7 linked regions of the Homo sapiens genome follow. The protein of the gene in region 7 interacts with the protein of the main gene of each other region in a biochemical or structural test. Each region holds a gene or a part of one and is shown on either strand. Other genes may lie near its edges. The genes, in order: ARHGEF11, GRID2IP, RADIL, PTPN3, ARHGEF12, ARHGAP21 and RPS6KA1.

Region 1 (3,403 bases), about 130 Mb from region 7:
TGGTTACAGTCTTGGTGATGTGGCTGCGTCTGTGGGAGGATGTGGATGGATGATGACAGTGATGAACTGGCCAGGCCTGAGGCAACCCTCCCACTTAGATTTGGCTTTTAAAGTCTTCAAGCTCATTGAGGGCAGCTCATGAGACCTCTTGACTCTGGGTCCACTGCTCCTTTATATACACATATATGTGTATATATATGTGTGTGTGTGTGTATATCTATATATGTGTGTATATATATGTATCTATATATATATCTGTGTGTGTGTAACTGAGTTCAGTGTCTTGTCATGTTTTCTCCATGGGGGTTGTACAACTTAAGTTTGCCCAGTCCCTAGTTCAGTGAGTGCACAGCTGAAGCTCTGGGAGGGAACAGGCAAGATCTGGGTCTGGGGGTGAGAGGGCTCCCTCTGGTTCCCACTATCCAATCCTAACCAGTCTTACAGGGAACAAACACCGTACCTTTTATCACAGCGATTCCAAGAAACACACACACCACCACTGAAGGATATTTAACTTTTCTTAAAAAAAAAATCTTAACCATGAAAGGAAGAAAATAAAAGAGTATACATTATCTTAACAGCAGAACAGTCATTTCCATATCTATATTTTATATATTATATATATATTTATATATATATATATGTATATATACACCTAGCACAGTGTGTATATTCTATTCATCAGGGAGAGTTGGGTGAGGACGTGGTGATGGGGCCAATGCTGCGGTGGCCCCTTGGATGGTCCTGGGTGAATTCAGGGACTCGGCATTCAGACCCCTGTCCCCACCTCCTGGGGCCCAGTCCTCAGCTCCGTACCTGCTTCACTGGTTTTCTACAGGGACAGGGTGGGGAAGAGGGGGACATAGGTGGGGTAAGAAACCCCCATGATCCCCATCTTGTGAAGATGAGAAGTCCAGGGAGGGAGGGAGTAGCTTGGCAGCAAGCTGTGGAGGGCAGGCTCTGGAGCCAGGTGGGATGGGGAGCCAGAAGACCTTCCCACTCACAGGGACAGGAACACTCAGGCCTGGCTCCCGCTTTAGGCTCGATCCTGGAACTGGGTTGTTAACTAAGGAGATACAAGTGAAACCCCTCTTCCCTAAGCAGCTCCTTCCATAACTGCCTCCAGCACTTCAGGAACAGGAACAAAAAAGGTCAAAGTTATTTACAATAGCAAAGATGCACATACGATACATACATATTTATAGGAAACCAAAGTGACAAAGAGGGGAGGGGAGGCACCCACCTCTGCCTGGGGTCTTATGGAGAAAGAGGGGAGGAAGAAAGTGCATTTACACAGAAGCCTCCTCCTTTCACTTGCATGTCTGAGGGCAGCGCACATACAGGCGTGCGCGTGTACACACATATGTGGGGTGAGGGCAGACCATGGTGAGTGGGGGCCTTTCGGATGCAGTCAGCATGCTTAGGAGACATGAGGCCTTGGAGGGTTGGGCTAAGGGAGGGAAAAGACACTGAAACCTGACTCCGACTTGAGCAGACCAAGCAACATGCGGGTCTCCCCCCGGGCCTTGGCTGGATCCTAGTTTCCCTAACTGCCTCCTCCACAGGGAGGAGTGTTGGGATCCCCCCTACCCTGTGCCCCGGTCTCAGGCCAGTCCCTGAAGGAGGAGTGGGGACGCAGAGGATTTGGTGGTTTGTACGGTTATGGTCCTGGTGACGCGGCTGCGTCTGCTGTGCTGTCTTCCAGGGGGGCGTCAGAGCCTGTGGGAGGAGGATGAAGGTGAGGAACTGGCCAGCCTGAGGTGACCGCTTCCACATGTTTTGTCTAGAAAGTTCAGGCTCACGAGAACAGATCCTTCATCACCTTCCTTCTCCTCCAGAAACCCCAGTTTCTCGTAGGGCTTGAAAAGGGCTGTCTACTGAACTCCACTTTCATCAGCGCCTAAAGCCCTTAGGTCAGGTAGGTATGTGCCTTGTCTTCCTGAGTTATGACATAGCTGTGTCCCTGGCCCACCCAGTGTGGTTCTGAATCATTTAATCAGCACGAGTCTTAGGCCGACACCATGGTGTGCACCTGCAATCCCAGCTGCTTTGGAGGCTGAGGTGGGTGGATCACTTCGGCCCAGGAGTTTGAGACCAGCCTGGGCAACATAGCCAGGCCAGCCCTTGTCTCAAATAAATAGAAAAAAAAAAAAAAAAAATATATATATATATATATATATATATATAAAATTAAAAAAAGAACAAGTCTTAGAGGTGAGAACAGGCTCCTCCTGGTTTGTTACCTCCATAGCACAAGGAAAAAGAGGGCTCAGTGCTAAGCTCCCCATTTTGCCAGGGAGCTTCTGTGGGACTTCCCTAAAAAGATCCCTCTCTGAAGCTGAGAGAATGAACTCGTTTCACTCAAGGGGAAACCACTCTCAGAACCACCATCTCTCACTGCTTAGTGATGTGTCCTCACGAGTTGGCAGACTTCTCCCCCAATGGTAGGAACCGAGAGGGACCTGGCTTCACTCACCATCCTCAGGGCAGGGCCCCAGTTCATGGCTGTTCCTGGAGTCAGAAGCTAGGGGCTCCTTAGCGGGAGGTGAGAGGGAGCCATCTGTCCATCTAGCTGCTTCTGTGTGGAAACTGCCCACAGGCGTGGTGCCACCAGATGACTCTCCCCCAAGGGACTTGAGCAGCTCTCTGTGGGCCAGCTCCATATCCTGGAAGAGTCGGCGGGGGAATGTCTGCTCGAGTCCTTCTATTCCTAAGGCCCCTGGGGAAGGGGTCTGTGCTGGGCCTTGGGGAGGAGGGTGTGATTTAAGGGTGGCTGGGCGGGCTGGGGGAAGATCCCTGGGCCAGGACAGGATCTAGGGCTCCCGCGAAGACACACATCTCACTCATGGGGAATGGTTTTGGGGTGATGGACTGAAGGCCTGCAGGGACCCAAGCCCTGCTTCCCTCACCTTGAGCCTGTTGAGCTTGAGAGTGAGCTGCTCAATGGTATGGAAGATCATGCCCACGTCCCTGAGGGCCAGGCTTGGAGGAGAGCGGCTGGGGCGTCTTGGATCATCGTTGCCTCCCTGCAGCTGAGGCTGAGGCTCTGTCTGCCCTGCAGGGAGGCTGTCAGGCTGAGGGGGGCTCATGGGTGCCTCTGAGTGGTCGGTGCTTGAGTCCGGGGGTCCTGATGGCATGCTGACATAAAAGCAGTTCCCTGTCCCCACAGTAAGAGAATGAGATCAGGAGGCAAACAGAGAAGTCGAAGCTATCCTCCCGTTCCTGTGGGATTCCCCAGCCACCTGACAGAGCAGGCCAGGCAGTCCTCTCCAGACAAACTCAGAGAACGTGGGCCTTGCTCACTGTCTGCCAGCCCCCTAAAAGCCCTGCTCCCGAGACCTTCTAGATGACACTTGCTCAGTCTGGCCCCAAGCTGGGGGAGATGCTGAGCGATGAACTCAAG
Region 2 (3,500 bases), on a different chromosome or scaffold from region 7:
CATCACTTGAGCTCAGGAGCTCAAGATTAGCCTGGGCAACATAGCAAGAGCCTGTCTCTACCAAAAAAAAAAAAAGTTTTAATTTAGCCAGGTGTGATGCACACCTGTAGTCCCGGCTACTTAGGAGGCTGAGGTGGGAAGATGGCTTGAGTGCAGGAGATCAAGGCTGCAGTGAGCTATGATCAAGCTACTGCCTCCAGAAAAAAAAAAAGGAAAGAAAAAAAGAAAAAAGAAAGAAACTCACGTGGTTGCCAGACATGCCAACACCACCACCAGGATCATGAGCACACGACCACATCCCACCTGGCTGGTGGGCTCCCAGTGTACTCTTTCTTGCACACACACAGGCCTGCAGTGCCATGTGTGGCTGCCACCTGTCTGTTCAGCGTGCCCTCCGAATGCCCACAAACCCCTGCACTCAGCATGCAGGTCATGTGGATGGAAGGTGTGCCGAAGCCTGTGTTCTACCCTGTTCTAGGCATCCTGCACCTGCTATGAAAGCCGCTGCAGGTGCAGTGGTTCACTCTTGTAATCCCAGCACTTTGGTAGGCTGAGGTGGGTGGATCACTTGAGGTCAGGAGTTCCAAGTCCAGCTTGGGCAACACAACAAGACCCCCATATATTCAAAATATTTAAAAATCAGCCAGGGGTGGCCGTGCGCGGTGACTCACGTCTGTAATCCCAGCACTTTGTGGAGCTGAGGCAGGCCAATCACGTGAGGTCAGGAGTTCGAGACAAGCCTGGCCAACATGGGGAAACCTCATCTGTACTAAAAATACAAAAATAAGCCAGGTGTGGTGGTACGCAGTTGTAATTCCAACTACTCGGGAGGCTGAGGCAGGAGAATTGCTTGAACCTGGGAGACGGAGGTTGCAGTGAGCTGAGATCGCACCACTACACTCCAACCTGGGCAACACGGTGAGACTCCATCTCAAAGAAAAAAAAAATAAAAAATTAGCCAGGCGTGGTGGTATGCACCTGTAGTCCCAGCTACTTGGGAGGATGAGGTGGGAGGAGCACTTGAGCTCAGGAGTTGGAGACCAGCCTGGGCAACATAGCAAAAAAATTTGAAATTAGCTGGGTGTGGTGGCACACACCTGTAATCCCAGCTGCAGGGGAGGCTCAGGCAGGAGGATCTGTTGAGCCTGGGATTCAAGGCTGCACTGAGCCTTGATTGCACTCCAGCCTGGGGGACAGAGTGAGACCTGTCACAAAAAAAAAAAAAAAAAAGAAGAAAAGAAAAAAAGGCAGGTGTGGTGGCTCACATCTGTAATCCCAGCACTTTCAGAGGCTGAGGCAGGTGGATCACCTGAGGTTAGGAGTTGAAGACCAGCCTGTCCAATATGGTGAAACCCCATCTCTGCTTAAAAAAAAAAAATACAAAAATTTAGCCAGGCATGGTGGTGCATGCCTGTGGTCCCAGCTACTTGGGAAGCTGAGGCTCGAGAATCATTTGAACCTGGGAGGTGGAGGTTGCAGTGAGCTGAGATTGTGCCACTGCACTCCAACCTGGATGAGAAAGCCAGACTCTGAATAAATAAAGAGAGAAAGAGAGAAAGAGACAGAGAGAGAGAAAAGAGAGAAAGAGAGAAAGTGAGAGAAGGAAGAGAAGGAAGGAAAGGAAAGGAAGGAAAGGGAAGGGGCCGCTGCAGAGTTGCTGGTCCTTGTGTGCCCATGAGCTGCAGTCCCAGGGACCCACAATTTGCTAGGGTTTTAGCGAGAAGCTCAGGATCCATGCTGGACCACACATGCCTTACATATCTGCGTAGGCTCAAAAAACTTCTATTTTGGCCGGGAGCAGTGGCTCACACCTGTAATCCCAGCACTTTGGGAGGCCGAGGCAGGCGGATCACCTGAGGTCAGGAACTTGAGACCAGCCTAGCCCACATGTTGAAACCATATCTCTACTAAAAATACAAAAATTAGCCAGGCATGGTGACGGACACCTGTAATCCCAGCTACTTGGGAGGCTGAGGCAGGAGAATCGCTTGAACCTGGGAGGTGGAGGTTGCAGTGAGCTGAGATTGCACCACTGCACTCCCACCTGGGCAACAAGAGCAAAACTCAGTCTCAAAAAAAAAACACTTCTATTTTGCCCATAATCCTCTCTGGGCAGCAGTGACTTGGCCTGGGGCAAGCACAGGGCGTTGAGACTCTGGAAGCTGTTGTCATGAGATCTCTGCTAGGCCCCTGAGTTCAGGCTAGCTGCATTCTGGTGCTGCATTCTGGTGCTGCTCCTGGCACCTGGTTTCTTGCCCTGGGGCTTCCCCTCAAGAGCTGTTCTGGAGGCAAGCAGGGCAGGCCCCGTAGCTTGGGGTCTGCATATTGGTGCAGATGACATCTGCCCTCCCCTCCCTGTTTTGGAGGTCCCTTGTCTGGCTGAGAGGGCAAGAGGGCCCCATGTTCCCTGCATGTCCCACAGCAGAGCCGGAGCCTGAGCTGGACCTGGAGTCCGAGCCCACGCCTGAGCCCCAGCCGCGGAGCTCCCTGCGGGCTTCCTCCATGTGCCGCCGCAGCCTCCGGTCCCAGGGCCTGGAGGCCGGCCTCAGCTGCGGTAAGGCTGGTGTCAGGGGGAGGGTATGAATGGAGCTCAGTTTTCCCACCTGCAAAATGGGCTTGGTGAGGTGGGGAATCCCAGGGAATGGGGCTAAGCAGGGCTCAGGATTGGCCCTCCTGGGTCTGCGGGGCATGTTGGTTCTGGGCCGGGGCCTGAGCCGTAGAGCTCAGATACGGTAATGACATTATTCCCCGGTAGGTCCCAGCGAGTGCCCTGAGATGCCTCTTCCCCTGATCCCAGGCGAGCGCCAGGCAGGCGACGGCACGTCCCTCCCTGAGACCCCCAACCCCAAGATGGTGAGACCTTCTCTGCCCTCCACGTGGGGTCAGTAGGGGGCAGGGAATGGACGGTCCATAGGACTGGGCCCAGGAGACCCAGGCCAAGGCGTCCCTGTGCTGCTTCAGGCTGGGGCATATCCCTGCCTCCCGGCCCACCCAGGCCTGGACCACATTAGGGCTACGAGGGGAAGCAGAATGGGCTGGACTCTCCCCCGTCTCCCTCCAGATGTCAGCCGTCTATGCAGAGCTTGAGTCTCGACTGAACAGCAGCTTCAAAGGGAAGATGGGGACCGTGTCCAAATCCCGGGCTTCCCCTCCAGGCCCCAGCCCAGCAGTCACCACAGGTAGGGCTCCAGCCTCTGTCATCTACTGTCTGGGTGTTTCCCTCCACCCCAGGCTCAGCCCTGGAGCTGCTTCTCTGCTCCATCAGGGTCAGGGTTGTCCCAGTCCCTCCCATGGCCCTGTGACCCTCACCTCAGCTGTGGATCAAGAAAGTAGCCTGGGTACCGTGGGTCGTGCCTGTAATCCCAGCACTTTGGGAGGCCGAGGCAGGAGGATCAATGGAGCCCAGGAGTTTGAGACCAGCCTGGCAACATAGTGAGGCCCCATCTCTAACAAAAAAAATACAAAATTAGCTGGGCATGGTTGCATATGCCTGTAGTCCC
Region 3 (3,500 bases), on a different chromosome or scaffold from region 7:
TTGAGCACATACACCAGGCTGTCCTGAAACAGAGACTCCGCTCAGGGCAGGCGTAACGCGAGCAGCACACGGGAAAAGCGTCCCGTGTCTAGTCACTGGTTGCTGAAGCAGCGTGGCTGGGATGCTGTCGCCACGGGCTCTCCATGTCCCTGGCCACCCCCACACCAGAACCCCGACGGCTCTCAGGAACCCGCCCCTCGATGTCCGGGCCCATCCCAGAGGAGGTCGGTTTCCCGGAGGAGCACACGAGAGACCCAGGAGACACCCAGCTTTGAGACAGCGACAGGCCAGGTCAGGGCTGGCCGGGAAACAGGCACTGGTTCTACAGACCGGGCCAAGGACTACATAACTTCCCCCAAGTCATCCCCAAAACTGTGTGGGAGCACTGCCGCCTGTGTGGGAGCACCACCCCCAGTGTGGGAGCACTGCCGCCTGTGTGAGAGCACTGCCCCGAGGGAAGATGCCACCTAAAACCTGGGCACAGGAGCCCTATGGCTGTAAAGTGCTCATGGAAATGAGCAGCAAAGGAGCTGGCTGCACAGGAGGGCGGGGGTAGGGTGAGCAGGGGGCGGGGAAAACAGTTGTCTGGCAGGGCAAGTGTCCGGCAAGGTGAGGCGAGGTGGCCCTGCGCCTGGCATTTGCTCGGGGCGACAGCCTGCCTGCTCTGATGGAAGTGGTGAGAAACGGCTCTGGGCAGATAGGGGTGGCATGGGCCTTTGCTCGGTGCCCCTTCAGAGAATGTGGCCACCAATTGGTGACTCAGCAGCCCCCTCGCCAGAAGCAGGAAGCAGACTGGCCCTGGCCAACTGCCCATGCCCTTCCCCAGAGCCAGGCGGGAGACCAAGGCTGGGAAGGCGTGAGGAGTTCTCCCTGAAGGCGCCTGGTGCTGAGGGCACCCACTCTGGGATTGGGGAAGTGAGGAGCCCCCACTGCCGCCCACCGTGGCCTGGACAGGGAAAATGTGGATGACTCCACATGTGCCCCCGCCATCCCACTCCACAGCCTCGGCACAGCCAGAGGGGCTGCAGCCACAGAGCTCGCGGCCGACTGGGCTAAAGGCAGGCGGAGGCCTTGACTTCTGAGTCCCGCCTGCTGTCCCTGCAGTGGCACCGGGCAGTGGGTGTCAGGAGGGGAGGCTCACGTGCTGCTGGCTGTAGCCCTGCAGAAGGAGCAGATGCGGGGACTGGTACAGCGAGTACCGCATGGCGTCGGGGCCGGGCTCCTCGGGGCCCTGGGCGGCAGCGGGCAGGGCGTTCACTGGGCTCAGGCTGGTCTCACTGACTGTGCGGCGCAACCGGGGTGGAGGAGAGCTCCGGGCATCCCCCAGGGCCGGGGTCGGGGTTCCCTTCGCGCGACTCCGCTGCAGCCTCCGGGCCTGGGCGTTTATCCCTGGAACAGAAGCAACACAAGGTGAACAGTTAGAAGTCTCATAGCACCAGGACTGGGCGCGGTGGCTCACCCCTGTAATCCCAGCACTTTGGGAGGCCGAGGTGGGGGGATCGCCTGAGGTCAGGAGCTCGAGACCAGCCTGGCCAACACAGTGAAACCCCATTTCTACTAAAAATACAAAAATGAGTTGGGCGTGGTGGTGCGCATCTGTAATCCCAGCTACTCAGGAGGCTGAGGCACGAGAATGGCTTAAACCCAGGAGGCGGAGGTGGCAGTGAGCTGAGATTGCACCACTGCACTCCAGCCTGGGTGACAAGAGCGAAACTCCATCCCCCGCCAAAAAAAACAGGTAAGTCTAATAGCGCCCATGTCCCGGGTCCTTCTGAGTTCAAATCCCACTAAGCCACGTCTCCTAATGCCGTTACTGTTCTGTCAAAACAGGTCTGGTGGAGACTCAAGGACTCTGCCCTCTAGCCACGCCCCTCGAAAAACCAGACAGTGCCTTGGCACCACCGTGGCACCCACAGAACAGTCTCAGAGCAGGCAGCCTGCCTGTCAAATCCTCAGGCTGAGGGGACCACGCCTCCCCTGCAGCAGCCCAGGGTCACACCGCGGCCTGCCCGACCAGCCAGCACCACGGCCCACAGGCCTCAAACCACAGACGTTTTCCCACGGCAGCCTGGGCCTCTGCAGGGTCACCACGCCGCCTCCAGAGCCCTGCCCCATCCATCTGTGCACCAGGCGAAACTCCCCTGGGGGTGGTGCTCTGACGAGACGAGACGGACTGGTCAGCATCCTGCCCCTACTTTACAAGGAGGAGGTGTCACTGTGCCACATCACCCCAGCCCATGGGGCTGCCGATGGCCTGCTCCTGCAACAGCATCGCTGCCTCCTTCCCAAGGCTGTCTCTGATACCCCCAAGCCAAAGCAGGCACACACACAAACACACGTGTGCATACACATGCCCACAAATACACATGCACCCACACAAAAATGCACACACACATGCACACACATGCACCCAAAAACACACATGCACACACATACACACACGCCAACACACATGCACCCACACACATTAACACATACATGCACACAAACATGCGCACAGTTCAGAGATAACACACACCCTTAGAAGACTTAATATCTCATAAATACAGACACGCTCTCTAAATGCATGCTCTGGGAAAGCCAGCCGGCTGCGATAGATGAAAACCGCTCACCAGTCCCCAGCTGACCCGGCGCTGTCTTTTCTGAGCCCTCTGCTGAGTTCCCTGTACGCAGCCTTTCAGGTTAAGATCCATCCCCATCTGTGGCGGCCTTTCCTCCAACCATTCCCAATAAAACCAAACAAAAGCCGGATGGAGGGAGGCGTCAGCTGGCTGAGGAAGACCCTTACCAGCGCCAGCAGCCCCGCCGTCCTTCCCAAGGCAGCCGGCAGCCTGTGCATCTGCAGCCCGCAGGGGGCCAGGGCGTGAGGGAGGCCGCCCAGCCGCAGTGCGAGGCTGCTGGGCTGGGCTGCTCACCACCCGTGCTCCTGCCGCCTGCAGAACCCGGCCCAGCCTGGCAGGCGGCAGGTGCCCAGCAGGTGGGGCCCAGTTCCCCTACCTCATCCCACCCGCCACTCCCACAAGCGTTACCAGCCCCACAGCTCAGCCTCATTGCACAACTATGGGGCCAGATCCGAAAGAAGAACAAAAACAGCTCCAAATGATGCTCCGGCCCTCAACTTTCTCCCAAATCCAGGGCCAGGTTGTAGGAGGTGACCTCAGAGTGACCTGCTGGAAGTCCCAGGGCCATGGGGCAGGAAGGGTTGCTTCTCCTCCTAGAGTCCCAGGGGCTCCCAGAGGACCTGGCCACAAATGCGGCACGGGATGTCCCAGGCCTGTGTCCCCTGGGGCTGCAGCCCCAGGCAAGTGGCTCGCAGCTGAGTGTACCCTGCTCCTCCAGGCAAGGCTCCACAGCCTCCTGAGGCCCAGGGCTGGGCTCTCTGCAGGTCGGAACCAATGCTGACACGCAGGGGCCACTCCCAGGGTCTCCTTCCTGGTGCTGGGTAGGCCTGCATGTGTGCAGAAGGGCCAGGCTGCCAGCCTCCAACGAGGGGCCGGAGG
Region 4 (3,500 bases), on a different chromosome or scaffold from region 7:
CTTTTGGTTTGTGAAACACACAATCATCTCGACCAAGGAAACAAGGGCTTGTGTCTCTGCCTCATTTCCTCCACTGCTCAGAGGCAGGGGCAGCCCAATAGGCGACATGGCAGTGGGATTCAGCCTCCAGAGGGTCTTACCTCAAACTGGATCAGCACCGTCCCGCTTTCGAGGCCCTTCTTTAGCTGTGCCATGGATCCCTCCAAAGTGTCCCCACCCTCCGGACACATGGGGAAAATGGCTTCGGGGAAAAGCTGGTTCAGTTCATCTTCAGACTTGAAGTCAGCAAATGAGCGGACAGCTGTAACGTACAAGACAGTGCATCTGACTTGTGTAGCAATACTCAGGTTTATCCGTCTCCCTCAAACAAATCACACCTATGACACCTGAATGCAGATGGTTCAAAACATCTTATTAAATGATTAAGCTACATGGTAATCATTTTCACCAAAGATACTACTTCTAGGTGAATGATTCAATATGTGTTAATTACATAAAATGACATACTAATCTTCCTGGTTAGTTTTAAATAATGGTGTTTAACACTCAGAGGCTTTTGTCAAAGGTAAAGAAAAGAGAAAGAATGTTATTTAAAAAAGCATATTGTTTCTGCTTGCTCTTTCTGACCGGGTTATTCTTCTACCCATCCCGACTCCCCTTTCTTTCTCAGGTTTTTTCATTTACTTCCCTAAAATGGGCATTTCCTCAGGCATGAGGGTGAGGTCCCAAGCTTTTCCTGTGACACCATCATTCCTGAGAGCTCAATCCCTAACTCAGGGCCGTTTCTATGTGGGAGGCTCCCACGTAAATATCGTAGTCCTAGCATCTCTTCTGTGCTTCAGCCTTACCTCTTTAGTGCACGTTTTCCCTTCATGTTAAATTCAATACAGGTGAAAGCAAAGCTAGGACCACCCCCCCACAACTCCCAACCTTGCACAGGTGGGGAACCGGAGAGATCTGGTAAGGCCTCACGGAGGAGGTGGGGTCAGAGCTGGTCCTGGTGGCTCTGGACTGAGAGTTGCAGTGGGAGCAGAGCCGAGGCAGGAGCACAGCAGTATGGAGTGTCAGCCAAACGTGTGAGGCAGGCAGAGACGCAGGGCTTTGCAGACACAACCTTCATTTACTTTCAGTATTTTACAGCTGTGCACGGTGTTCAAGGAACTTGACGTATTATTTTATAACAACAACTATAAAGACAACAGTGTGATGCTCAGTAGAGGCTGTCCTTCAAACCTCTGCTCCCATCAGGCAGCAATGCAGGTACTTTCCAGTCTAAGTGCCATTGATTGATTGAATGATTGAGATGGAGTCTCACTCTGTCACCCAGGCTGGAGTGTAGTGGCACAGTCTTAGCTCACTGCAACATCCACTTCCTGGGTTCAAGCGATTCTCCTGCCTCAGCCTCCTGAGTAGCTGGGACTATACCCACATGGCACCATGCCTGGCTATTGTATTTTTAGCAGAGATGAGGTTTTACCATGTTGGTCAAGCTGGTCTTGAACTCCTGACCTCAAGTGATACACCCACCTTGGCCTTCCAAAGTGCTGGGATTACAGGTGTGAGCCACTGTGCCTGGCCCCAAGTGCCATTTAATCTTCACAGCAACCCTGTGAAGTCGGGACCACTGCTGTCCTCCTCCACACCTGAGCCAGCTGAACCACAGACTGGTTATGTAACCCCTGCAAGGTCCCCCAGCCCGCAGAGGCAGAGTGAGGAATCACCCGAGACAGTCAGACCCTGCTCTCCTCACTGCCTCCCCGACAAAATCAAACACGCACGAATAAAATATCACCAGATCCTTTAAGAAGGGGCTGAAAATGCAAATGTCTGCAGAGTCATGCCACTTAGAGAGTGCGTGATGTGGGCTGCGCTGGGCCTGGGAGGAACTGGGAGCTGGGGGCTCATGTCCTGTATAAAGGGGCTGCAGGGGCGCTGTCTCCCCCCAGAAGACTGGCCACATGGGGACAGGCCTCCTGGGGGCAGATCTTCACATTTTTCAAGTGAGAAGCCAAACATTCGGTTATTACCTGAAGATTCTTGATTTTCAAATGTTGGCTACAAACTCAACATTTTCAAGAGCAGATAAAGGGCTGGAGCAGGCGCAGCTTGGCTAGGACAGCTTCCCTATGGCTCCTCCCCCCAGGTGGCCATTACCTCTCCTCCTGATCACCAGGGCCAGCTCCCGTGAGTGGGACTCCCGGCTGGCTTTGATGAACATCACCACTTGGTCATGCGTGTGTTCTGAGATGTCCCGGCCATTGATTAACACGATTTGATCCCCTTCGTTCAGCTTAGGAATGCAGGTGTCCGCCTGGGTGGTGGGGAAAAGCGAGTTTCTCCTGTTACCATAACACAGTCCTTGGGGGAAGAACGCTGACTCGCTCTGCTCCCAGACACCTGGGACCATGATCAAGTTTGCCTTCTCTCCCTCGGGTAGTACTGTCATTATTTGTATAATGCATCCACTGCTATGTGGACATGGTAGATGGTTGTAAGATATAAAGAAGTACTGCTCAGAATATAAGTTATGAAACATTTCAGAATAAGGATATAAAAATTGCTGAAGCCATTTCTCCGTGGTAGTCAACCTTCACTTATTATAATATAACTATACCATTTCCAGCCTTTTGTTTCCTAGATGTACTGTTAGGAAATGATTTGCCAGCTAGAGGTGAGTATTTATCTGTCTTGCAAAGGTGAAAGCTTTTGTAAGCTTCACAACAGAGGCAAAAACCATTATGGAGAGAAGCAATGAATTGAACAGCACAGGAAAGAAAGCCTTCTGAATTTACAGAAACTGTAAACAGTAACAAAAGTTAAATGACAAGAGCTTAAGGACTACCTCAGAGTAAAATCCCAACGTGGTTCACTGTAAGGAGGCACAGTGACTCCTACTGCTTTAAAAAAGCAGATGATTAAAAGGTAACTATGGAGCCAGGTGAGGTGGGACACACCTGTGGTCTCAGCGACTTGGGAGGCAGAGGCAGGAGGATCGCTTGAGCCTAGTTTGAGGCTGCAGTGATCATACCACTGCATTCCAGCCTGGGTGACAGAGCAAGAGCGAGACCCTGTCTCTTAAAAAAGAAAAATAGGTTAACTATGGAAAGTGATGAACATGTTAATTTGTTTGACTGCAGTACTATATGTATAACAAGACATCATGTTGTACACCTTGAGTATGCACAATAAAAAAATTAAACGAAAAAATTACTTGATATTATTTTAAAAACAATAAAATAAATTTATTTTATTTTTGAGACAGAGTCTCACTCTGTCGCTCAGGCTGGAGTACAGCGGCGTGATCTCAGCTCACTGCAACCTCTGCCTCCTGGGTTCAAGGAATTCTCCTGCCTCAGCCTCCTGAGTAGCTGGGATCACACCTGTGTGCCACCACACCCAGATAATTTTTGTATTTTTTGTAGAGATGGGTTTCACCCTGTTGGCCAGGCAGGTTGGTCTCAAACTCCTGGCCTCAAGTGATTCACCCTCCTCGGCCTCCC
Region 5 (3,500 bases), on a different chromosome or scaffold from region 7:
CAGTGTATGTGCTGGTCTGCAATTTTTAGGGTCAATCACGGCCCCGTGTGGAAAGAGCTGCGGCAGTGAAGTCAGAGGACGTGCTTCTGGAGCTGGTGTGAGCAGTTCTGCCTTCACCATATCTTTTTCCACTCCACCCTTGGCTATCCTTTTGACTCAGGGCCCTTTGGCACCATCAGTGCAAAAATTAGAGTCAAACCTCCAGGTACTAAAATTTTACTGGCCTTATAATCAGCAGTACCTGTGGCTAATGATAGCCATGATTCAACTCAGTAGTGATTCAGTTAGATAACCTTCCCAAACTCTTTACCCACTCCCATCCCACCCTTTCCTTAGCAACCCCCACCCCTGCCACTATCCGAAGCATTTCCATTTGTTTTTACTTCCTGCTCAATCTGCAGGGACAGTTTTACACAAGTGCCAATGTCTAATGTATAATTATAAAAATGAAATGATACCAAGAATAACAAATTTATAGTCAAGAAAATAAAATTTGCTTTCCTCTCCCACCCAAATCCCAACCCTCAATAGAAAAGACGACAATGGAAGAAAACACACCCATTTTCAAGTGCCTGCTATTTAGTATGTTGAGGATTCCTATTAATTGTGGTTGATCCCAGCTACAGAGAAGAGGTGCTTGCCTCAGGGCGGGAGGAAGCCCATCCACTCTCTGACCACACCACCTGGGCACATAAGAGCCACACGGCATAGCATACCTTTGAGGTGACCCTCAGAGAAGCAGCCTACTGGACAGCAGAGAGCTTGGAATACTGTATAGTGAAGCAAGGTGCTCCTCCCTTCCCCGTCTCACTTCCTCCTCTTCTTAACCTCTCTACCCAACTTCTGCATACTCCATCCTGACCTCTTTGCTTCAGGAGCAGTTGATCCTTGGGTGTACTAAAGACAAAGGTCTAAAACTCTCACTACTCAATTAAAACAAAACAAGGCAAATAAAAATTAAAATGTGCTTTCAAATACGGAATGAAGTCAAATAAATACATCTGATTTTCTCTTTTTCTTAAATCTAAGTACAATTTCATATCCTACACCCAAAGCTCTATACATTTGGTTTTTATTCTGAATCAAAATGAATTTCCGATAGTGAGGAGAGTAGAGTGAGGGAATGGATATTCCCTCACAAACAGATTAGTGCAGCTGCCACACTGTGAAGAACTAGTCCCACTCTGGGCACCTTGGGACTTGACTAATCCCAGGTGGTTCACAGGCAGATCCTCTGTCACACTCTCTCTGCATCCACACTGGAGCCAGGATGTGGTGAGACACGGCCGATACTCCAAATCCAACAACCTGCAGTCACCTCCAGGACATGCGGCTCTAACTTTTATCTGAGAAGAATAAAGATACATGGAAATGATATTAAGAAAAAGAATATACTAACATTGCAAAGAATACCCATGACATCTGTGGGCGTGGTTCAATCTTTGTTTCTGAATCAGTATGTAAGCAGATGAGTATAAACTGCTGCAGGGAACACAAATCCATCTGCAGTCAGGGGAGACACCAGCCACACTGTCAGCAGAGGCAAGTGCACCAACATCCAATAAGGCCAAATCCTCCACACTAGGGAGTCACAGCAGTACCAGTAAGCCTCACACCGAATCTGTGATTTACCAGGCTTCCCACTGCTCTGCCTTCTGCTTTGAAAAGGTGAAAAGAGAGAGAAGAGGGGATGGTATGGGAACTGACAACTGCAGTTCCTCTTAGAGAAGAGTAGAGTCAGCAGGCATGAGCTTCCGCTTGATATCTGATGTTTAGAAACAGGCAGTTCTTTAAAGACAGAAGAGAAATGGAATCTCAGAAGGTTTTCACTTCAAAGTATGATAAGTCATTTCATTCAGTGTAGGATGATTAGTCTAGAGTCTGGAACTCATAACTTTTACATACCTGAGTGCTTGTCTGTGAGGGCTGATCCAGCCAGCCTTTGGCAAAGAATGGTGTAACTTTCCTCCACCTTCTGTGAAATAAAACCCATAGGTTTTTTATTCAAACGTAATGAAACAAAACAAAACAAAAACTTCAGAAAACAGAAAAGAAGCCCTTTTTACATTACAGGTACAAGCCCCCAAATTTCAAAAATATTAACTTCATCATTAAAAATTTCATTAGTGGGAAGAAAAAAGTAAATTTCATTCCTTTTACCAATTTCTCCACTGAAGGAATAACTTAGTATTTTCCCATGTAAAAAGAAAGTAGAGGTGGTAACCATAGATGCAATTCTCCCACCCCCAGGAGTCACCCTGGACATGGTCCCGTCATCATGTGCATGAGCTATAGTCATGCAGCACATAAAGACATGGCGGCCTGCATACATGATGATGGTCCCTTAAGATTATTATGGGTGGGGCATGGTGGCTCACGCCTGTAATCCCAGCACTTTGGGAGGCCGAGGCAGGTGGATCACCTGAGGTCAGGAGTTCCAGACCAGCCTGGCCAACATGGTGAAATCCTGTCTCTACTAAAATTATAAAAATTAGCTGGGACTGGGCGCGGTGGCTCACGCCTGTAATCCCAACACTTTGGGAGGCCGAGGCAGGCGGATCACGAGGTCAGGAGATCGAGACCATCCAGGCTAACATGGTGAAACCCCGTCTCTACTAAAAATAAAAAAAATTAGCCGGGCATGGTGGCAGGCGCCTGTAGTCCCAGCTACTGGGGAGGCTGAGGCAGGAGAATGGCGTGAACCTGGGAGGTGGAGCTTGCAGTGAGGAGAGATCATGCCACTGCACTCCAGCCTGGGCGACAGAGCAAGACTCTGTCTCAAAAAATATAAATACATAAATAAATTAAAAGATAGAAAAAAATTAGCTGGGTGTGGTGGCGGGCACCTGTAATCCCAGCTACTCAGGAAGCTGAGGCAGGAGAATCGCTTGAACCCGGGAGGCGGAGGTTGCGGTGAGCCGAGATTGCACCATTGCACTCCAGCCTGGGTGACAGACCGAGACTCCATTTAAAAAAAAAAAAAAATTTATCTGGGCATGGTGGTGGTGCCTGTAGTCCCAGCTCCTTGGGAGGCCAAGGCAGGAGAATCGCTTGAACCTGGGAGGCAGAGGTTGCAGTGAGCCGAAATAGCGCCACTGCACTCCAGCCTGGGTGACAGAGCAAGACTGTCTCAAAAAAAAAAAAAAAAAAAAAAGATTATTATGGAGCACATGTAGAAACCTGGTGTGTGGCACTTAATAATGGCATTGCTGATCAGGTAGGGGAAATGACTAATATTCAGTAATAGTGTTGAGAGATTTGGCTTTCCATATGAAAAAATCTATGTAAATAAAGATATATTCTATCTAGGTTTGTGTAAGTACACTCTGTGAAGTTCACACAAAGATAAAAATGCCTAATGATGAATTTCTCAGAATATATCCCCATTGCTAAGCAACACATGACTGTATATAAGAACCGACCTGTCCTCAATGGGCTTGTCGATATCTCATCAGCTACAGAATGATACTACATAAAATAAGTAACATGAAGAGGGAAAA
Region 6 (3,500 bases), on a different chromosome or scaffold from region 7:
AGAAGTCTTACACTGTGATTTTAAAATGTTTCTAGTGAATCTCATAAGCTGTGCTTCAACCAGAGCTTTCACAAACCTCTTTAAAAGTTATTTCTAGTACCAATTTTCCTTTTTTTAAAAAAAAAACAAAAACTTCATGTACCTAGTACCCATTTCAAATTTTTATTTTGATGAAACAAATTCCTGAGATTAAGGAAATCAGCGAAGCAAATTATACCTAATTGTTGATTCAGGTGAATGAAAAACCAAGTGGAACAGTTTTGATAATTAGTTACCAACCTTTCATTTAAACAGTGCTTTTACTTTCTAAAACATATTTCTTTGTAAATTTAACGTGTACTGAGAGAAAAGACCTCTTCATTGTCAAGTTAGTTTGCCATACTATAAATCCTGGAACAGATTTAGAGAAGTTACTTAAATTATAAGCGTGTGCCACAGTTGCCGGCACCTGTCCTGTTGAGTCTTCTGTCTGCTCCCTCCCACCCCAGATCTGTTCTCCATACAGCAGCCAGTGTGATGTTTTTAAAAATGTCAATTAGATCACACCACTCCTCTGTGCAGAACCCTCTGTTTCCTTCCCATTCATCTCACCCAAAATAGCATGCAAAATCCTCCCGTGATCTGAAAGGCCCTCCATGGTCTGCCTCACAACTCCCTCTCTGATGGTGTCAGAGAGATCCTACTTCGTGATCTCCTATCACAATCTTCCATGTGCATCCCATCTGCAGCCTCACCAGCCTCCTTGCTGTCAGGTGTGTGTTGCTACAGGGACAGGTACAGCTGGTTTCTAACCCTGGTATACATTCCACAGATAGTTAACAAGCCTCTGTCTTCCTCATGACATTTGGGTCTCTGCTCAAAGATCTTATCCAAGCAGGCTTTGTGACTCACCTATCTAAAACAGGTATCCCACGCACAGACACAGAAACGGACATTCTCTTCCCTTAAGCTTTTTTATTTATCTTCGTATTACTGTTTCCACTTGACATGTTTTGTTTTTTTGTTACATGTTTCTCAGTAGAACTAAAACATAAACTACATGAGAGCAGAGATTTAAAATCTTTGGTTCACTTTTGTGTCCCTAATGCCTAGAACACTGCGTGGCACATAAAGAATTCACTCAGTAAGTATTTGTTGAGATAATGGCTGAAAGACAATTTTGAAATGCTGGTTAAATGTATAGCACAACAATACAGTTCTCATCATGACTGTGCAGCTCTAAAACATCATCTGCTAACAGGTGATGACTTATGTCCTTAATATTATCTTCATTTTATAAGTGAGAAATTTAAGGTATAGAGAGGCTAAATAACATCTCTAAAATCGCATAGTAAGTGATAAGAGACAGGGTCTCTAGGTTTGCCTCATTCAGCCTCGTCCCAGAGCACAGCTCCAGGGAGCACGCCATTTATATGGAATGCCTGTGAAGAGCGCCCCCTGGAGGCATGCGATGCAGGGGCTTTTTTCCTTCTCTTTTTGCCACCAACCAAGGCCATACTTGTAGTCCCCCTGGTGTCCCATGGGTTTATGAAAAGAGTTCTCCATCATTTTACAATATAATATGCTTCTCTTTGAGTACTAGTTGAGTTTTTCTTTTCTACGGGAACATTTTTAAAGCTGTTGAGGACTGTTGTTTCTTTTCTACGGAAACATTTTTAAAGCTATCAATTGTAAAGCTATTGATAGCTTTAAAAATGTTTCTTGAGAAAACACTTAATTGGATAGGTGACACTAAAAGCTTTTTTAAAAAGTTCCACACAGCTTATGTTTTTTTTTATAAATCGGATATATTCAAGTTGTCAACATTGTGGGGAATCTCAACCTAAATTGTACCCATATTCATATCTATACCCCTAAGGCCAAGCTCAGCAAATAGTAGACTCCTGTTGTAGATGGAATCTTATACATCATCTAGAATAGATATTTTATAGAAGGCAACTGATGACGAATGATTGTTTTATGAAGTTTTAAAATGTAAAAAAATCTTACAACCTGTGGCTGTTTCACAGGCCCATGCGATCTTATCAGAACAGTGGCATCATATTTTCTTCCTACATAATAACAACAATATAATCAGATTACATTGGAGTAGTAAAAAAATGTGCTGGATATATCTGTTAATATTTCTTCCTAGTTATGAAGTATAGAAATAAAACAATTATGTTATTAAAGAGAAGATTTTGGCTAAAATAGAAAATAAAGATCTGTATAATTCTATATACATATAGATTGATGTAAATAAATAATTTTATTTACTAAGAATAAAAGTACTCTCTAATTAGTTCCTATCTTATTTGACTTTCGCCCTCCTTCCCCCGCTGCTCACCTTCTGCTGTGCGGCCCAGCTCCTAACCGGCCATGGACCAGTACCAGTCTGCAGCGCAGGAGTTGAGGACCCCTGCTATATACTAAGGTTGCAGGAGGCATACAGGCATACAAAACAAAATGAATACATTTTGTTTTTAAATTTGGAATATTACTCATTAACAGTATTTTGTTTACTGTTCCCACCCCCCACTTTATAAAGCTGCATAGTAAGTCCTGAAAATAAATTTCAACTTCTTTTATAAGTAAACACAAACCTCAACAATGTGAGCTGTTCATGAGTAATCTCACGGTGAATAGCAGATATTACAATGTGTTCTAAAATCCTGACTTCCTACACTTCTCTAATTTATACCACTCATTACTAGTAATACAAAAATGCTACGACTGTTACCTACACTCAGGGTTTCATCTTAACTTTCTTTCTCCATAGTTTTGTCATATCTCTTAAGACTCCTCCTCCATCTTACCCCAACATTGGCTGCGTGTGTGCTCAGTTGAGGGTTAGCCCTAAGTTAAATTGAATTTGATGGTCACAGCCTTATTGGCACTGCCATATCAAGATGATTTAGAAGTGTTAGATTTGGTAAGATATAGCTGGATTACATTGTCCATACAGGGGAACTTAGCTCCCTGAAATTTACCCAAAGGGAAGAGGTGACCATTCCCTATACCCAGTTTCTCCCTTTGGGAGCTCTGGGCTCAGTGCCAGTGGTGATATGACAGGACGATGCAATGAGCACCCAGCCCTTCTTTAATACTAATTCAGGCTGAGTCTTAGCAAATAGTCTGTTTATAAAGAGAAATCATATACTTTATCATCTTACATCTTTTATAAAGAGAAATCATGTACTTATCATCTTTATATGTCTTTTTCATATATTGGCTTTTCCCAAAAATGTGATGCCATTGGTACTTAAGCTTAGAGATTTTTGCTTCCACTATTTGAGTAACGATGTGAGGTAATTTAAAAAATAATAAAATAGTCCGGGTGCAGTGGCTTGCGCCCGTAATCCCAGCACTTTGGGAGGCTGAGGCAGTCAGATCACTTGAGGTTGGGAGTTCAAGACCAGCCTGGCCAACACAGTGAAACTCCATCTCTACAAAAAAAAATACAAAAATATTAGCTGGGCGTGGTGGGGTGCCTGTGAGCCCAGCTACTTGGGAGGCGGAGG
Region 7 (3,500 bases):
TCTACAGGTAGCTCTAAGTTAACCTGTCAAAACTGAACTCTCAATTCTCCCCTAAAACCTACTCATCACATAATCTTACCTTGTGGCAACTCCATCCTTCCTGTTACTTAGGTCAAAATCTTAAAAGTCTTTTTTTTTTGAGATGGAGTCTTCCTCTGTCACCCAGGCTGGAGTGCAGTGGCACGACCTCAGATCACTGCAGCCTCCGCCTCCCGGGTTCAAGCAATTCTCCTGCCTCAGCTCCCAAGTAGCTGGGATTACAGGCACCCGCCGCCATGGCTGGCTGATTTTTGTATTTTTAGTAGAGATGGGGTTTCACCATGTTGGTCAGGCTGGTCTCAAACTCCTGACCTCAAGTGATCTGCCTGCCTCGGCCTCCCAAAGTGCTGGGATTACAGGCGTGAGCCACCACGCCTGGCCCTATTTTCCTTATCTTTAAAATCAAAGAATACACTGCTTTACTTTTATCTGTAGCACTTCCCACTACTTAACATAATATTTAATTTGTTTTCTGAGTCTGCCCACCGGCATGTAAGCTCCCTGAGTGTTTTGCTCACTGCTGTATCCCAGCACTTAAACTAGCTCCTAGTACATGGCAGGTATTCAATAAATATCTGTTGAATGAATGGATGAATGACACTTACTGCTGAGGCCATAAGCAAACGGCTTTCCTCTGGGCCCTGTTTGCTCATCTGTAACTTGAGGGGGCTGAACCACCCCACATTTCATTCTTCTCCTCCCCACACTCTGTAAGGCTTTTTTGTTTTGTTTTGTTTTGAGACAGGGTCTGTGTTGCCCAGGCTGGAGTACAGCAGCATGATTCATGGCTCACTGCAGCCTCAATCTCTGAGCTCAAGTGATCCTCCCACCTCGACCTCGCAAGCAGCTGGGACTAGAGGCATGTGCCACCATACCCAGCTAATTTTTAAAACATTTTTTGCAGAGACAGGGTCTCGCTATGTTGCCCAGGCTGCTCTTGAACCCCTGGGCTCAAGTGATCCTCCTGCCTGGGCCTCTCAAAGTGCTGGGATTAAAGGTGTGAGTAACTGTGCCTGGCCTGTACAGTTCCATTCATAGTCAATCCTCTAACTATCAACTACCAATACCTCTCAGATCTCTAACCCTAGTCCAGAACTTTTCCTGAGTCTTGGCTCATAAATCCAACTGCCTACCACAAGGCAACCACTGGATGTTCCACAGAGCCTCAAACTCAACACATCCCACACTAAACTCCTCATGTTCTCATCTTCCTGCTCCTCCTCCCCTAAGCTAATGGAACCTCCCTGGGCATTGTCAAAAAACCTTCAAAGGCTCCCTACCTGCAAGATAAAGCCCAAAGTCCCTACCCTAACATGGGAGGCACAGCCATCATCTGTTCCAGCCTCACTGTCCATTGCATCCCTCAGGTGCCCTGAGCTCAGGCCACCAGGGGCTCCTTCGGTAACGATCATAACCCTATGTCTGTGGAATGCCCGTTCACCTTCAGCACCCAGTGCAGGGCCTAGCACAGAGCAAATGCTAAGTGAACTTTGTGCAATGAATGAACAAATCACACCTCTGAAACACAGAGACAGATACCTTGCAGGTTAGATTAGTAGAGTTTTGCAGGTTAGTTGGTTTTATTCAGATAGTCTTTTCATAGTCTCAGTTGATCTCCAAGCCCTCCAGCAATGCCCGTGGAGCCCGTGGAGTAGGTAGACATGGCCCAGCACAGTCCACCTCCATAGGGAGAAGAGTGCCAGGTAGATGAGGGGGAAAGGGCCACACTGTTAGGGTAGCCCCAGCAACACACTGTATCCAAGCCTTGGAGAAAGTCCCGTGGGCTCCCTCCTTCAAACACAATCGTATGCCCACAGCACAAGGCCAGGCCCCCAGGAATGTGGACTCTACCTAGAGGTCAGGGATGCTCAGCTTGGCTGAGGACACCAACTACCCTGCACAAGTGAACTTCCAGTTTACAAAGAATGTTACCAGTCGTGATCTCACTGGAGCCATCCACTGCACCTCGGCGGGTGGACAGGAATTATTAGCTCCATTTTACAGAGGAGAAAACCAAAGCTCTGAGAGGACAATTTTCTTTTTTTTTTTTTTGAGATGGAGTCTCGCCAGCAGCACAATCTTGGATCACTGCAACCTCCGTCTCCCAGGTTCAAGCAATTCTCATATCTCAGCTTCCCAGTTAGCTGGAATTACAGGTGTGCACCACCATGCCTGGCTAATTTTTGTATTATAGAAACAGGGTTTCACCCTGTTGGCTAGGCTGGTTTTAAACTCTGGCCTCAAGTGATCTTCCCACCTTGGCCTCCCAAAGTGCTGGGATTACAGGTGTGAGCCACTACGCCCAGCCTGAGAGGACAACTCACTTGCATGTAGGTTAGAGGCAGAGGCAAGACCAGAACCCAGTTCTGACCTGAATTCCATAGTCTTTCCAGTTTAGTGTGGCACACATGACACTACTGGGACACAGGGATATGGAAGTTGACCTTTTTTTTAAATTAATTTATTTTTCTGAGATGGAGTTTTGCTTTTGTTGCCCAGGCTGGAGTGCAATGGCGTGATCTCGGCTCAGTGCAACCTCTGCCTCCCAGGCTCAAGCAATTCTCCTGCCTCAGCCTCCCAAGGAGCTGGTATTACAGGCATCTGCTACCATGCCCAGCTAATTCTTTGTATTTTTAATAGAGATGGGGTTTCATCATGTTGGCCAGGCTGGTCTCGAACTGCTGACCTCAGGCAATCCACCTGCCTCAGCCTCCCAAAGTGCTGGGATTACAGGCGTGAGCCACCACGCCCGGCTCAAGTTGTTGATCTTTTTTCCTACCCTAATACAACATAGAGAAACTACAAATTCCTATAGGAAACTGTCTCACCACTGCCAGTGGCAGAATAGTAGGGATGGTGAGTGGGGGAGGGGAAGTACAGCTTTAAAAAGCCCCACAGGTGATTCTGATACCTGACCCTCAGGAGTGTATGTTGGGGGAGGAAAAGTATAGTCTCACATCTCACCGCATGGAAAATCACAACAGGCTGGGCAAGTAATGAGTGAAGCCAGGCAGAGTGGGAACCTCCAAGCAGTCCACAGAGGACAGCAGCTACCTGGCTCCAGCTGACAGTCACTACATAGCAACTCGGACCCAGTGTTTTTAAAAGCAGCCAAATTACCAAACCTTACTAAACCATACCTCAAATCAAAAAACACCCCTTATCTTGCAGGCCAAACAAAATATATGTGTAGGCCAAATGCAGGCACTGGAGCAATAGGCCGTGACCTCCAGGAGAGTTGGGATTCCAGTCACAGGAAGGAGTCGGGCAGGCCAGGGTGTGAATCCTGGCTTTACTATCCACTCACAGCTGTGTGGTTTTGGGCACGACATTTAACATCTGTAGCCCTCAGTTTCCTCACTTGTAAAATGGGGCTGATAATAGTATTCAACCCCAGGCTTATAGAGAAGGACAGGAATATTTAGCAAAGGGCTTGGGAAATGATGGACATCACAGTAACC

Evidence for each region.
Region 1: the proteins of RPS6KA1 (region 7) and ARHGEF11 interact in a test that uses a peptide from one of them, tested with the Homo sapiens proteins (2 studies listed by BioGRID and IntAct).
Region 2: the proteins of RPS6KA1 (region 7) and GRID2IP interact in a test that uses a peptide from one of them, tested with the Homo sapiens proteins (2 studies listed by BioGRID and IntAct, with this or other methods).
Region 3: the proteins of RPS6KA1 (region 7) and RADIL interact in a test that uses a peptide from one of them, tested with the Homo sapiens proteins (one large-scale study listed by IntAct).
Region 4: the proteins of RPS6KA1 (region 7) and PTPN3 interact in a test that uses a peptide from one of them, tested with the Homo sapiens proteins (2 studies listed by BioGRID and IntAct).
Region 5: the proteins of RPS6KA1 (region 7) and ARHGEF12 interact in a test that uses a peptide from one of them, tested with the Homo sapiens proteins (2 studies listed by BioGRID and IntAct, with this or other methods).
Region 6: the proteins of RPS6KA1 (region 7) and ARHGAP21 interact in a test that uses a peptide from one of them, tested with the Homo sapiens proteins (one large-scale study listed by IntAct).

What each region holds. Positions count from the first base shown.
Region 1 is NC_000001.11:156,934,340-156,937,742, forward strand, and holds the end of ARHGEF11 (rho guanine nucleotide exchange factor 11), read right to left. Parts: intron 3,158-3,403; coding exon 2,910-3,157; intron 2,667-2,909; coding exon 2,477-2,666; intron 1,906-2,476; exon of another isoform or gene 1,792-1,905; intron 1,720-1,791; coding exon 1,661-1,719; 3' UTR 501-1,660; downstream 1-500. UniProt on the Homo sapiens protein: May play a role in the regulation of RhoA GTPase by guanine nucleotide-binding alpha-12 (GNA12) and alpha-13 (GNA13). Acts as guanine nucleotide exchange factor (GEF) for RhoA GTPase and may act as GTPase-activating protein (GAP) for GNA12 and GNA13.
Region 2 is NC_000007.14:6,509,962-6,513,461, reverse strand, and holds part of GRID2IP (delphilin), read left to right. Parts: intron 1-2,422; coding exon 2,423-2,554; intron 2,555-2,755; coding exon 2,756-2,853; intron 2,854-3,061; coding exon 3,062-3,179; intron 3,180-3,309; exon of another isoform or gene 3,310-3,446; intron 3,447-3,500.
Region 3 is NC_000007.14:4,835,217-4,838,716, forward strand, and holds part of RADIL (ras-associating and dilute domain-containing protein), read right to left. Parts: intron 2,235-3,500; exon of another isoform or gene 2,172-2,234; intron 1,390-2,171; coding exon 1,142-1,389; intron 24-1,141; coding exon 1-23. UniProt on the Homo sapiens protein: Downstream effector of Rap required for cell adhesion and migration of neural crest precursors during development.
Region 4 is NC_000009.12:109,404,308-109,407,807, forward strand, and holds part of PTPN3 (tyrosine-protein phosphatase non-receptor type 3), read right to left. Parts: intron 2,312-3,500; coding exon 2,155-2,311; intron 302-2,154; coding exon 141-301; intron 1-140.
Region 5 is NC_000011.10:120,482,913-120,486,412, reverse strand, and holds part of ARHGEF12 (rho guanine nucleotide exchange factor 12), read right to left. Parts: intron 1,976-3,500; coding exon 1,906-1,975; intron 1,347-1,905; coding exon 1,336-1,346; 3' UTR 1-1,335. UniProt on the Homo sapiens protein: May play a role in the regulation of RhoA GTPase by guanine nucleotide-binding alpha-12 (GNA12) and alpha-13 (GNA13). Acts as guanine nucleotide exchange factor (GEF) for RhoA GTPase and may act as GTPase-activating protein (GAP) for GNA12 and GNA13.
Region 6 is NC_000010.11:24,615,888-24,619,387, reverse strand, and holds part of ARHGAP21 (rho GTPase-activating protein 21), read left to right. Parts: intron 1-3,500. UniProt on the Homo sapiens protein: Functions as a GTPase-activating protein (GAP) for RHOA and CDC42. Downstream partner of ARF1 which may control Golgi apparatus structure and function. Also required for CTNNA1 recruitment to adherens junctions.
Region 7 is NC_000001.11:26,567,761-26,571,260, reverse strand, and holds part of RPS6KA1 (ribosomal protein S6 kinase alpha-1), read right to left. Parts: intron 1-3,500. UniProt on the Homo sapiens protein: Serine/threonine-protein kinase that acts downstream of ERK (MAPK1/ERK2 and MAPK3/ERK1) signaling and mediates mitogenic and stress-induced activation of the transcription factors CREB1, ETV1/ER81 and NR4A1/NUR77, regulates translation through RPS6 and EIF4B phosphorylation, and mediates cellular proliferation, survival, and differentiation by modulating mTOR signaling and repressing pro-apoptotic function of BAD and DAPK1.